Homo sapiens: one gene and its partner. The protein of the gene in region 2 purifies or fractionates together with the protein of the main gene of each other region. This does not show direct contact. Each region holds a gene or a part of one and is shown on either strand. Other genes may lie near its edges.

Region 1 (7,025 bases), on a different chromosome or scaffold from region 2:
GTAAGCTTTAATGAAGATGTGACTCAAAAGTGTGGCCGATTTAGGGAACCAATAAAGGTGACACACCCAGAGACCAGCAATGGTGGTAAGCCTCTGACACGGGAGCGTGGGTGATGTGGCAGTATATTCTGTCGTAATCAGCTTCCTGGTGGCACAGAGAAAGGAAGAGAAGGAGTGGGATGGGGCACAATCAGAATTAACCACCACATGATTCCCAGAATTCAGTGTTCTGTGCACATGGGCCATGTCCTGAAGCTAGGTGGGCTTTCTACCGTCCTTAGGTCTTTGCTGGAGTAGACCGTGTGGTATAGTGGAAAGAATGAGGCTTGGGGTCAGACACAGATTTGAATTTGAATCCCAGCTCCAACAACACCTTGCAACTGTGAATCTTGGACAAGATACTTCTCCCTGGGCCTCGGATTGCTCTTCTGGAAAGAGCTATGTCCCAGGATTACCGTGAGAATTAAATCAAAAAGTGTGAATCACACCTCGCACACACTGCCTAGCCCCTGGTTGGCACTCAGCAGATGTTAGTTTTCTTTTGAGAAGAAAGCATTGTGTTCCTGTGGGATTTCTCTTTTAAATTGCAATAAGATAAAAAATCTATGTCATAGGAAACCTCAAGTTGCCTGGTCCTCAGTAGAGCATTGTCAGTGTTAGGCTCCATTTCCAAGTGTGTAGATTGTCAGTGTTTATTTGCAAGTATAATTTGCTTTTATTAGATAATTTTCAAATAAAATGGCCGATCAGACCAAGCCCAAGAAATTTGTTAAATCCTTGTTACTTCGATGAGTCTTTGCTTCCCCTTTCCAAAATTCAGTGTTCTTGTGGCTTATTCATTAATTTTACGTCTCTATCCCAACCAGGTTCTCTCTAGTTCCTTTGTTGCTTTATGTTCAGAGATAATGCTGCTGATCATCCATTGTGGAGACCACTTTTGAAATAAACTGTAGTGAACATGTCTTTTCTGTACTGGATAGAAAAGATATTCAGTTAATTGATTACTTTTTTTCCCTAGAAAAGTAACTTTCGAAAAACAGTGGTTCTACCTGGATAACGTCATTGGCCATAGTTATGGAACTGCATTTGAAGTGACCAGTGGAGGAAGTCTACAGCCCAAGAAGAAGAGGGAAGAGCCTACTGCAGGTGCACATTTTGGATGCGTGAAATAGATGCTCTCCAACTGACTAGTCAGAAACATCTCAGCCTCCACCTAATTCCCAAGTGCTAGGCCATGCTATCCCAAAAGAAATCTTAACTCATAATCTAAGAACTGCAGCTCAGTGGAGTGAAGCAAGTACTGCCTTTGGCCATGAGATAACCTGGATTCTGGCTCCAGCCCACCATTAAATGGTTCTCTGTTCTTGGGCCAGGCATTTAATCCTATGAGTCGTTGCTGCGTCATTGCAAGAACATAATGTAAAGTTCTTTCAGTGCCCAGAAGTTATGTAACAGCTGTGAGGTGGTTAGCATATGGTGTAGAGGTTAAGAGGTCTGGTTTTGGATCCAGCTAAGTTCAATTTCTACCTTCATCACTTGCCTTGTACCGTTGGGCAACTTATTTGATTTCTGTGAGTCTTATATCCTTATATATGTAAAATAGGGTCATAAACACATTTAATGCCTAGGTTGTATTGAGTGTTCTATGATATGACTCATAGGAAGTTCTGAATAGTGTCTTGCTTTTAGTAAGGGCCCATAATTTTAGCTATTACTATTATTATTTCTTAACAACCTCTTGTCCAAAAGCTGTTATTGTTAATTAAAATTATATTTATTAAAATGAACATTGAGAGTATCTTATTAATTAAAACACAAGTAATTATTTGAAGTTAAATACTGTTAAAGTTTTGAGTCAAACCTGTTATTTAGATACATTTAAATTAATATCCATATTTTTACTAAGCACCAAATATATGCCAGGTATAATTTGGCGCTGCAATTATAGCAGTTCATAAGATAGACTGTCGTATAAAATGTGCTTACCAGTTGGAACACCAAAAATAATCAAGTAGACAAGCAAACAGCATGATTTCTGATGGTGAAGTGACACATGCTATGAAGATAATAAAGCAGGGGCGTGTACTAATTTGGTAAAGCAAGAGAATGAGCTCAGCCTCAAGTGATAGAAAGGATCCAGCCACTCAGACATCTGTCGTAGAACCTTCCAGGCAGAGGAAGCAGCAGGTGCCAAAAGCCTGCTGTGGGACCTTGCTGGGTGTGTTCAAGGAACAGAAAGAAGGCCATTGTGGCTGAAGCTAAAGTGTCAAGAGATCAGGCCAGGAATGATAGGCAGGGGCCAGATCATTTATGACCTTGCAGGTCATCTTTGGAGTGTATTCTTATTGCTATGGGAAGCCACTGTATGGTTTTAAGCATGGGGTAGATGAGTCAAATTGCATTTAAACAAAGAGCACTCTGGCATCCAGGTGGATAGTAGGGGGGCAAGACTGGGAGCAGGAAGATGACTTAGAGGCTTGGAGTAGTTTTGGCAGGAAAGGATAGTGTGATGGGGGCAGTGCAGCTGGGAGGCCAGACTTGAGTGGCTGATGGACTGGATGTGGATATGAACTCAGAAAAAGAAAGTGTCAAATAATTTCAGACCATAAATGTCAATAGAGCAATTTCTTTCCTTAGAGACTAAAGAAGCGGGCACTGATAATCGAAATATAGTTGATGATGGGAAATCTCAGAAACTTACTCAAGATGACATAAAAGCTTTGAAGGACAAGGGCATTAAAGGAGAGGTAATATTCAAAGGATTTTTAGTTTTGTTTTTGTCTGTTTGGCATTTAGGAAACTGTTGGGTTTTTAAAGCAGACTGTACCTAAGGTAAAACAAAAAAATAACGTTATAGCTTTGATAGAAATAGGTTGAAATGTACATGTTACTCAACATTTCAAAGATTTTATGTCTTATATACAGGAATATAAGTGAATGACATTACTAATGTCAGTGGTAGAGAATGTAATAACAGTGCATATCAGGATTTAACTTTGTTCATTTTCAGTAATGTTTTCAGCCAGTGTCTTCAGAAATTAGTTTCCTTTACCTCTCTTCTCCTTTTGTTGGATATCTCTGTTCTTTTACGTTGGTTTAAGTGGAGTTATAAAGTACTTGTATTTTATTATAAATTCCAAATAGAGTATAGAAATATAAAGTTCATCTATTTGGACTTCTGTGGAAAAGGGATTGGAGAATCAGACCATTGGATCCATTCTTGGGTAAGAAGCCTTTGGAAATTACTTGTTTTGTGAAAGTAAAGTTTCAGAAAATCTACTTGCTCCTTTTCTTATAGGAAATAGTTCAGCAGTTAATTGAAAATAGTACAACATTCCGAGACAAGACAGAATTTGCCCAAGATAAATATATTAAAAAGAAGAAAAAAAAGTAAGTAGTTTTTATTTTAAAAGGCCCACAATATTAAACTTCTTATATGTTTATAAAATATACATTTTATTACAAATAAAATATTTTAAGTCATTTTTTTAAATCAGCGTTCTGTTTTTTCTTCCCCCAGATATGAAGCCATCATTACTGTTGTGAAGCCATCCACCCGTATTCTTTCAATTATGTATTATGCAAGAGAACCTGGAAAAATTAAGTACGCTTTGTTTCCTTTCAAAAGTATAATTGGGGGAAATATGTCTTTAAGAAAGTCATGATTTTAAGTAAAATGAAAAAGCTTGCTCACCTGCATAAAGTATCCTCCTACCTCATAAATTGTAAGTCCTTTTACTGTCACCTCCAAAGCAATCAATAATCTTATCAACACAATTTTAATAAAGCAAACAAAACTTGAAAAATGATGATTAAAATAATAGGCTTTACTTAGCTAAAAATGAACAAATTATTGTTTTTACTTTAGCCACATGAGATACGATACACTAGCCCAGATGTTGACGTTGGGAAATATCCGTGCTGGCAACAAAATGATTGTGATGGAAACGTGTGCAGGCTTGGTGCTGGGTGCAATGATGGAACGAATGGGAGGTAAGATTTAATATTTCCATTTTCAACAAAACCCCACCCTGATGTGAGTAAAGGTGGTCCAAAAATGTAAACTCATGGAAAGCCAAATTGAATTACTTCAGGGTTAACAAAGTGACTTGGGTGAACCTGCACGGCTCCTAGCATGGGGACCTTCTTACACAGTCTCCATCACCCAGCCCCCCACCCATGGGTACCCCCAAACCCATGGCAATTGTCCTTTCTAGCTTCACTGTCAGTGGGCATGATGCTGGAGCCTGTGGCTGGCTAGGGCTTTCGGGACAGTGATTTTAGTAAACTCCTGGGTAGCTGGTGCTCATTTCATTGGGCCTAAATTGAAGGGATTGAGTGGGAAGATTACTAAGCATGTATTCTCTCTGGAAGAATACAACACAGCCTGATTTGTCTGGTTTTTTTCTGACCCCATAGAAGGTAAGAACTTGTAACTGCTCCATTTGAGGATCGGAGTGAGGGGAAGCAGAGTCCGTCACCAATCATGTGACATCCAAATTTGCAGACACAGGGTTTTACAATAGTATCAAGTGGGGATAAGCTTCTTTGAGTCTTCCTGCTATCTGCTTTAGAATTATATTACCTCCATTGGTAATACTCATAGACTCCAAACAGACTCCCTGAGGAGCTGCACCATCCTTCAGCCTCTGAATAAAGTACTAATAGAAAGACCTTCAGTCTCATTACTGTGGAGGACTCACTGAGGGTTTACGTAGTCTAGAGTCACTCCACGGGCAGATGTTTGTTTCTTTTATCTGTTCAGGTTTTGGCTCCATTATTCAGCTATACCCTGGAGGAGGACCTGTTCGGGCAGCAACAGCATGTTTTGGATTTCCCAAATCTTTTCTCAGTGGTCTTTATGAATTCCCTCTCAACAAAGTGGACAGTCTTCTACATGGAACATTTTCTGCCAAGATGTTATCTTCAGAGCCAAAAGACAGTGCTTTGGTTGAAGAAAGTAATGGCACACTGGAGGAAAAACAGGCTTCTGAACAAGAGAATGAAGACAGCATGGCAGAGGCCCCAGAGAGCAACCACCCAGAAGACCAGGAAACAATGGAAACAATTTCTCAAGATCCAGAACATAAGGGGCCTAAAGAGAGAGGAAGCAAAAAAGATTATGTAAGGATGCCAAGAGTCCCCACCACCCCCATAATCTCAGTCCCTCAGTTAACTTCAGTTAAGTCATGAGATTTAGTTTGGCTTTGGTGTATTAGCTCCCAAGATGATAACTATCAAAACAGAGAACGAGTGTGTGTACATGTATACAAACGTGTGATTCGGTCTTCGGGATGGAGCTTTAGGATACAGAAGCGTTGCATAGATAGCTTAATCATGGTTTTTATAGTATATAGGCTTTCTTGTGTATTTGCAACTTCCTTATAAACAACCTGCTTCTATTGGTTTAGTCCAAGTTGATAAATATTGTTGAAATGTTTTGACAGGCCAGAGCATTTCCATAAATTTGACTGAAAGACCCCAGTACATTGATTTCTTATTTTTCTTTTTGAAGATTCAGGAAAAACAGAGGAGACAAGAAGAGCAGAGGAAAAGACATTTAGAGGCTGCCGCTCTGCTGAGTGAAAGAAACGCAGATGGGTGCGTTGATGGAAGAAGGCAGGAGACTCCTCAGTGCATGTGGGCTCTGCTTCAGACAGATTGGCATTCTCTTTCTCCTTGTCTGCTTTGACTCTAGTGGGACCCGAGATGAGGATTTTGTCTTGGGGGTTTTTTTAAAGAAAGGAGGCTGAGGCTGGCAGGGGTGGGGAATTGATGATGCTGGTTTCAGGGTTTCAGAAGAAATTGAATCTTCTCCATCACTGCATCAAGATGGGCCCTGTGGTCCCACTGGATGCAGGGGATGGGGCACTCAAATGCTGCGATACAGGCTATAACAGATATCCACAAAGCAGCTTATGCAGTGTTGGATTTGTTTCCAGGTGATTTTTTTTAAAAAATCAAGAATGTCATTAAATGCGACTTAGAGTTGCCAAGTACCACAAGAGCTTCTAACCTAGTTCGCGTTTCCTAGAAAGAAATAGCTCATGATTGTATTCTGTTTTGGATTTCTAGAATGTTATATTTAAATCTCTTCTCTTTGTGAGTCATGCAAATTAAATACATGATCATTTTAAATGCATTTTAAAACCTGTGCTCCACTTTGAGGGTGTAGAGAAATAATTTGTCTGGCATTTTCCTTACAGTTTAATTGTAGCTAGTCGTTTCCACCCCACTCCCCTGCTGCTGTCTTTGCTGGACTTTGTGGCCCCTTCAAGGCCGTTTGTGGTCTACTGTCAGTACAAAGAGGTAATACTGGAATGGAATGGGCAGGAATTCTTATGTCTGAATGTTGATTCTTAAACTGCATCCCAGGAAGTAGTTCTTAACAGAATTCTGTTGTTGTCTGCAGCCTCTGTTGGAATGCTACACAAAACTGCGGGAGAGGGGAGGGGTCATCAACCTCAGGCTGTCTGAAACCTGGCTCAGAAATTATCAGGTACGTGTTCTTACAGCCAGTCCCAAGAGCTGCCCTCCCGAGACTTGACTTTCCTTGCAGTAGTACTAGAAGTCATTAAATAGAGTTATCTCAGCCAGGCACAGTGGCTTATGCCTGTAATCCCAGCACTTTGGGAGGCCAAGGCAGGCAGATCGCTTGAGCCCAGGAGTTCAAGACCAGCTTGGGCAACATGGTGAAACCCTGTCTCTACAAAAAAAAATACATAAATTGGCTGGGCATGACCCTGTATCTACAAAAAATATAAAAATCAGTCGAGCATGGTGGCAGGTGCCTGTAGTCCCAGCTACTCAGGAGCTGAGGTGGAAAGATTGCTTGAACCCTGGAGGTCGAGGCTGCAGTGAGCCGAGATCCCACCACTGCACTCCAGCCTGGGTGACAGAGTAAGACCCTCTCTCAAAAACAAAACAAAATAAAAATAGAGATGTCTCTGTTTCTTTCTACAGGGATGGAGATTTCTCATGGCTGTTACTCAGAGAATATGCCCCTGACTTTTTGTGACCCTTTT
Region 2 (7,025 bases):
AGGAAGTTGGTCCCTGCTCGGGTGTGTGTGTGTGTGTGTGTGTTTGTGTGTGTGTGTGTGTGTTGTGTGATTTCTTCTGCAGCCTCCAGAGTCAGGAGTTTTTGTTTTGTTTTGTTTTTTTGAGACGGAGTCTCGCTCTGTCGCCCAGGCTGGAGTGCAGTGGCGAGATCTTGGCTCACTGCAGCTTCTGTCTCCCGAGTTTAAGCAATTCTCCTGCCTCACTCTCCTGAGTAGCTGGGATTACAGGCATCCACCACCATGCCTGGCTAATTGTTTTTGTATTTTTAGTAGAGACGAGGTTTCACCATGTTGGCCAGGCTGGTCTGGAACTCCTGACCTCAAATTATCCGCCTACCTTGGCCTCCCAAAGTGCTGGGATTACAGGCGAGAGCCACCGCGCCCGGCCCCAGTCAGTAGTGTTTTGCTTGCTGTGTTTGAGATAGGGTCTTGCCCAGGCTGGTTCATGGCTCACTGCAGCCTCTAACTCCTGGGTTCAAGCAATCCTCCCACCTCAGTCTTCCAAGTAGCTGGGACTACAGGCATGCACCACCACACCTGGCAAGATTTTAGATTTTTTTTTTTTTTTTGAGACGGAGTCTCGCTCTGTCGCCCAGGCTGGAGTACAGTTGTGCAATCTTGGCTCACTGCAGGCTCTGCCTCCCAGGTTCACGCCATTCTCCTGCCTCAGCCTCCCAAGTAGCTGGGACTACAGGCGTCTGCCACTATGCCCGGCTAATTTTTTGTATTTTTAGTAGAGACGGGGTTTCGCCGCATTAGCCAGGATGGTCTCAATCTCCTGACCTCGTGATCCACCCACCTCGGCCTCCCAAAGTGCTGGGATTACAGGCGTGAGCCACCGCACCCGGCCCAAATTTTTAGATTTTTTTGTAGAAATGGGGTCTGACTATGTTGTCCTGGCTGCTCAAACTCCTGGGCTCAAGCAATCCTCCTGCCTCAGCCTCCCAAAGTGCTGGAATTACAGGCCTGAGCCACTGCACCCAGCCTGGGGTCAGCATTCTTAGGTAAAGCAACTGAGCAGTGTCCCTGCAGGATCCTTGGAGGACTCAATGGATGGCCGGAACCAAAACAGGACGTGAGGGTCCCTGGTGCTGGGTCCCTCCGAAGCTCAGTGTGTGTACTTGGACTTTATACCCTCGTGCACAAATATGCATGACCCAAAATGACCCCAAGCGTCCATTTTGGTGGGTGCAATGTACATATTCTTCCCCTGGGGACAGTTGAGCTATCCTGGTATGTTTCTACCAGATTACATACTGGTGACCCAGGCAGACTGGGATATTTGTAGTCGGGTTTCTTTTCTCTTCTCTTCTCTTTTTTAGAGACAGGGTCTTGCTCTGTCGCCCAGGCTGGAATGCAGTAGTGCAATCTTGGCTGACTGCAACCTCCGCCTCCCGGGTTCAAGGGGTTTTCGTGCCTCAGCCTCCCGAGTAACCGGGACTACAGGCACCCTCCACCATGACTGGCTGTTTTGTATTTTTATTTTTATTTTGTTTTAGTTTTGAGACAGAGTCTTGCACTATTGTCTGGGCTAGAGTGCAGTGGCGCAATCTCAGCTCACTGCAACCTCTGCCTCCCAGGTTCAAGCGATCCTCCTGCCTCAGCCTCCCTAGTAGCTGGGATTACAGGCACCTGCCACCACGCCCAGCTAATTTTTTGTATTTTTAGTAGAGACGGGGTTTCATCACGTTGGCCAGGCTGGTCCCTAACTCCTGACCTTGTGATTTGCCTGCCTCGGCCTCCCAAAGTGCTGGGATTACAGGCGTGAGCCACCGCACCTGGCTAATTTTTGTATTTTTAATAGAGACGGAGTTTCACCATGTTGGCCAGGCTGGTCTCGAACTCCTAACCTCAAGTGATCTGCCCACCTCGGCCTCCCAAAGTATACTTGGCTTTTTGCTTAGGGCAGGGAGTGTGAATGAGCATGAGGGCCAGGCCATGGTGCGAAGGACCCTGTGCTCTGGGCACCCCCTTGCATGGATCTGGGTCTGGGTGAGTCACTGCCTGAGTCAGGGAACCCATGACTTTTTTTTTTTTTTTTCCCGAGACAGAGTCTCGCTCCGTCTCCCAGGCTAGATTGCAGTGGCACGATCTCAGCTCACCACAACCTCCGCTTCCCGGGTTCAAGCGATTCTCCTGCCTAGCTGGGACTACAGGTTCATGCCACCATGCCCGGCTAATTTTTGTATTTTTAGAAGAGACGGGGTTTCACCATGCTGGCCAGGCTGGTTTCGAACTCCTGACCTTGTGATCCGCCTGCCTTGGCCTCCCAAAGTGCTGGGATTACAGACGTGAGCCACTGCGCCTGGCCCAACCTATGACATTTTACACTTGCATGGTGAGTCCCCGTGTGGGCAGGCTGTACCCACACCCTTGCCTGCCTATCTGATTCCCCAGACTGAAGTGGGGGCCTCTGAGGGGGTAAAAGGATGTGGTCTTTCGGGACTGCTTGGCCTTTAGCTTGGTGGGTGGAGCCTGTATCCTACCTTGTTTTAACCCAGGAGTCACCCCAAAATATGGGGGGGACACAAACTGAAAAGGGAGGCTCAGACATGTCAGAACCATTGGCTGAGTCGTGGGTCAGGGGACCAGGGTTTCCCTAGATTCTTCCTGGGGAGATGGATGGGGAGCCAGAGATAACTCCCTGATGGGCAGATGCCCTCCTTCTTGGCCCAACTCCTGTCCCGTTACAGATTATCTTTGTCTTTTGTTTTGTTTGTTTGAGATGGAGTCTCACTCTGTCACCCAGGCTGGAGTGCAGTGGCACGGTCTCACTTCACTGCCACCTCTGCCTCCCCGGATCAAGACCCTCCCACCTCAGCCTCCAGAGTAGCTAGGATTACAGGTGTGTGTCACCACACCTGGTTAATTTTTTGTGTATTTTTAGTAGACTCTGGGTTTCACCATGTTGGCCTCACTGGTCTCGAACTCCTAACCTCAAGTGATCCACCTGCCTCAGCTTCCCATAGTGCTGGGATTACAGGCATGAGCCACCGCGCCCAGCCCCAGTTACAGATTATCTATCTGGACAAGGACAGGAGGCTCCCAGGAGTGGGGGAACTTGGATGTTGGCAGAAGTGGGCTGGTCTAAGGTTCCCCACCTTCCTTGTTCCACCTCCAGCCTCTGGGGAAGTAGGTACCTGCCTGGGAGAGTGACATCTCAGCTCATGCCCCACGCCCCAGTGTGATTTGTGGCTGGCCTGTCTGTATCTGTAATAGTGATAGCTTGGTCTAAAAGGAGACCCTGGGAACAGACAGAGTGGGCCGGCCAGGAGCCTGACAGCACAGCCCTAGCCTGGTCGCAGATGTCACCTGACAACTTTCCATTTGCAAATCCTCCTTCCTCCTCGGACATCCGGACACCCCATTGCCCCCTCTCAGAGCCCAGGTCTCTGGTTTCTGCCTGTGATTCTGGGCTGTAGCCCCTTTAGAAACTCAGGTGTCCTGGTCACCTCCTACCCCCAGGGCTGACTAGCCTTCAGCTTGGCAGTCCCTGCCCCTGGGGCCCTAGTAACCAGAGCCAGGCTCCAGCCGGCTTTTCCGGTTAGAGGTTGGAGGTGGTGCCCAGAGTGCCCCTGGAGGGGGTGGAGGGGCCTACGCCCCGGAAGTCCTGAGCCTTGGAACGCTTTCAGGCCTGGTGGCGGTGGGAGCCGGGGCTGGCCCAGACGCTGAGTGTCTGCAGTCAGGGAGCATCGAGGCAGATGTTTTCAGGCCTTGGTGTCAGGGGTGGGAGAGGGATGCCTCGTTTTGGGGAGGGGGCCACCCGAGGAGGCTGGAGGGCGGCGGCCCTGTGGACTATCCCTCATGTGCTCTTCGAGGTCAGACAAGTCAGATCAGGTGCAGGGGTGCCCAGAGGGGAACAGTGGCCGCTTGGTTCTGGGCAGGTGGTGACGTCTGCATGGAGGGTGACTAAGGCCAGGCTAAGAGGGAAGTGGGGGCACACACTTTGGTGGTTTGGACAAGTTTGGGCAGGGAGGGTCACAGGCCTGCCTGTGTCCGGCTCCTCGGAGGACCCCCTGCAGAGCCTCCCATCCTGAGGGTCTCTCTCTACACCCCCCGTCTCGTCCCGTCCCACAGGCAGCATGATCCCAGTGGCCGAGTTCAAGCAGTTCACGGAACAGCAGCCTGCGTTCAAGGTGCTCAAACCCTGGTGGGACGTGCTGGCCGAGTACCTCACCGTGGCCATGCTCATGATTGGGGTCTTTGGCTGCACCCTCCAGGTGAGGCCCTCCCCTGGCAAGGGGGTGTGACCAGAGGGGCGGGGCAGGTGTCTGGGGAAGTCGGGAAGCCTTCTCATCACCCAAGAAAGAGAGGAAACTGAAGACAGAGCCCCACTCAAAGGCCAATCCAGACCCCTTATCTTCCTTACCTCCATAGCCAGGAGCACCGGAGTCCCCACATTGCTATGCCATTCCATATCTTTTTTTCTTTTTTGAGACGGAGTCTCACTCTGTCACCCAGGCTAGAGTACAGTGGCATGATCTCAGCTCCCTGCAACATCTGCCTCCCGGGTACAAGCGGTTCTCCTGCCTCAGCCTCCTGAGTAGCTGGGATTACAGGCGCCCACCACCACGCCTGGCTAATTTTGGTAGTTTTTTAGTAGAGATGGGGTTTCACCATGTTAGCCAGGCTGGTCTCGAACTCCTGACCTCAAGTGACCTGCCTGCCTGGGCCTCCCAAAGTGTTGGGATTACAGGCCTGAGGCACTGCACCTGACCCTTTCTTTTTTTTTCTTTTTTTTTTTTTTCTTTTTGGCTAAAAAGAGACAGGGGCCGGGCATGGTGGCTCACACCTGTAATCCCAGCACTTTGGGAGGCCAAGGTGGGAGTATCACTTAAGGCCAGAAGTTTGAGACCAGCCTGGCCAACACGGTGAAAACCCGTCCTTACTAAAGACACAAATATTAGCCAGGCATGGTGGTGGACACCTGTAATCCCAGCTACTTGGAAGGCTGAGGCAGGAAAATTGCTTGAACCTGGGAGGTGGAGGTTGCAGTGAGCCGAGATCATGCCACTGCACTCCAGCCTGGGTGACAGAACGAGACTCCATCTTAAAAAAAATAAAATAAAATAATTGAAAATTAAAATAAAGAAACACGGTCTCATTCTGTCATCCAGGTTGGAGTGCAGTGGCATGATCACAGCTCACTGCAGCCTTGAACTCCTGGACTCAAGTGATCTTCCCGCCTCAGCCTCCAGAGTAGCTGGGATTACAGGCACACACCACCACGTCCAGCTAATTTTTAAATTTCTTGTTGACACAGGGGTCTTGCTATGTTGCCCAGGCTTGTCTCGGACTCCGGGCCTCAAGCCATCCTCCCACCTCGGCCTCCCAAAGTGCTGGGATTACAGGTGTGAGCCACTGTGTCCAGCCCCATATTTTCACAATGCTCAGTTTTATCCCTAGAATCTGGAAAGGACTGCAGTTGCTATATGAGTTTGTTACTTCTGTTGTAACAAAGTAGCAGGGATTGAGTGGCTTAAATAACCAGAAATGTTTCCTCTTCTGGGTCTGGTTCTGGAGGCCAGAAGTCTGAGATCAAGGCGTCAGTTGTCAGTGAGGGAGAATCTTCCAAGCTTCCCTCCTAGATTTTTGCAGCTCCAAGAGTTCCTTGGCTTGTAGATGACATTCTCCCAGTATTTTTCTTTTTCTTTTTCTTTTTTTTTTAGACAGAGTCTCCCTCTGTCGCCCAGGCTGGCATGCAGTGGTGCGATCTCGGCTCACTGCAACCTCCGCCTCCCGGGTTCCAACAATTCTCCTGGCTTAGCCTCCCAAGTAGCTGGGATTACAGGCGTGTGCCACCACGCCCGGCTAATATTTTTTTGTATTTTTAGTAGAGACGTGGTTTCAGTATGTTGGCCAGGCTGGTCTTGAACTCCTGACCTCGTGATCAGGATCAGCCTGCCTCTGTCTCCCAAAGTGCTGGGATTACAGGCATGAGCCACTGCGCCTGGTCGAGACAGTTTTTTTTTTTTTTTTTTAAGCAAGCTCTGTCACCTAGGCTGGAGTGCAGTGGCGCAATAATAGCTCACTGTAACCTTGTACTCCTGGCCTCAAGCAATCCTCCTCTACCACCCCCGCTTGGCCCCCCCTCCCACTGCCTCCCAAATCACTGGGATTACAAGCCTGAGCCACCGCACCCAGCCTCTCCCTGTATCCTCACGTCATCTTCTGTCTTTGTGTCTGTCTCTGTGTCTATGTTTCCCCTTTCTCTAAGGCGCAGTCATACTGGGCCCACCCTACTGGCTTTGTCTTGACTACCTCTGCAAAGACCCTATTACCAAACAGGAGCCGCCTGACCCAGCTCAAATAATACCACATTCTAAGGATTCGGAGTTGGGACTTCAACATCTTTTGTGGGGACACGATTCAACCCAGCTCCTTTTCTCAGACAAAGACCAGTGCTTTGTCAGTTGTGGTGGCTCATTCCTGTAATCCCAGCACTTTGGGAAGCTGAGGCAGGGGATCACTTGAGGCCAGGAGTTCGAGAGCAGCCTGGCCAACATGGTGAAACCCCATCTCTACTAAAAATACAAAAATTAGCTAGGCGTGGTAGTGCGTGCTTGTAGCCCCGGCTACTCAGCAGGCTGAGGCAGGAGAATTGCTTGAACCAGGAGGGGAAGGTTGCAATGAGCCAAGATTGCACCACTGCACACAGCCTGACAGAGCGAGACTCTTGTCTCAAAAAAAAAAACCAAAAAAAAAAAAAACAGTGCTTAGAGGTTTAGCAAAACTCTTCCAAAATCACAGCTGGCTGGCAACAGTCAGAGATGGGGGGTGCGGGGGGTCTCCCACCTTCAGCCTGCTTTTTCCCCATCCCCCTCATTTTCTCTCTTTTTTAAATTAATTTATTTTTGAGACAGAGGCTCACTCTGTCACCCAGGCTGGAGTACAATGGCGCGATCTCGGCTCACTGCAACCTCCATCTTCCGGGTTCAAGCGATTCTCCTGCCTCAGCCTCCCGAGTAGCTGGGATTACAGGTGCCCACCACCATGCCCGGCTAATT

What was found. The genes of interacting proteins can lie anywhere in the genome.
Region 1: the proteins of LRRC8E (region 2) and TRMT6 purify together in Homo sapiens (affinity purification with mass spectrometry; 2 studies listed by BioGRID and IntAct, with this or other methods). This does not show direct contact.

What each region holds. Positions count from the first base shown.
Region 1 is NC_000020.11:5,940,527-5,947,551, reverse strand, and holds part of TRMT6 (tRNA (adenine(58)-N(1))-methyltransferase non-catalytic subunit TRM6), read left to right. Parts: intron 1-1,018; coding exon 1,019-1,146; intron 1,147-2,637; coding exon 2,638-2,747; intron 2,748-3,298; coding exon 3,299-3,390; intron 3,391-3,520; coding exon 3,521-3,604; intron 3,605-3,868; coding exon 3,869-3,993; intron 3,994-4,765; coding exon 4,766-5,124; intron 5,125-5,515; coding exon 5,516-5,601; intron 5,602-6,206; coding exon 6,207-6,309; intron 6,310-6,412; coding exon 6,413-6,499; intron 6,500-7,025. UniProt on the Homo sapiens protein: Substrate-binding subunit of tRNA (adenine-N(1)-)-methyltransferase, which catalyzes the formation of N(1)-methyladenine at position 58 (m1A58) in initiator methionyl-tRNA.
Region 2 is NC_000019.10:7,891,504-7,898,528, forward strand, and holds part of LRRC8E (volume-regulated anion channel subunit LRRC8E), read left to right. Parts: intron 1-2,069; exon of another isoform or gene 2,070-2,356; intron 2,357-3,016; exon of another isoform or gene 3,017-3,836; intron 3,837-4,095; 5' UTR 4,096-4,100; coding exon 4,101-4,238; intron 4,239-7,025. UniProt on the Homo sapiens protein: Non-essential component of the volume-regulated anion channel (VRAC, also named VSOAC channel), an anion channel required to maintain a constant cell volume in response to extracellular or intracellular osmotic changes.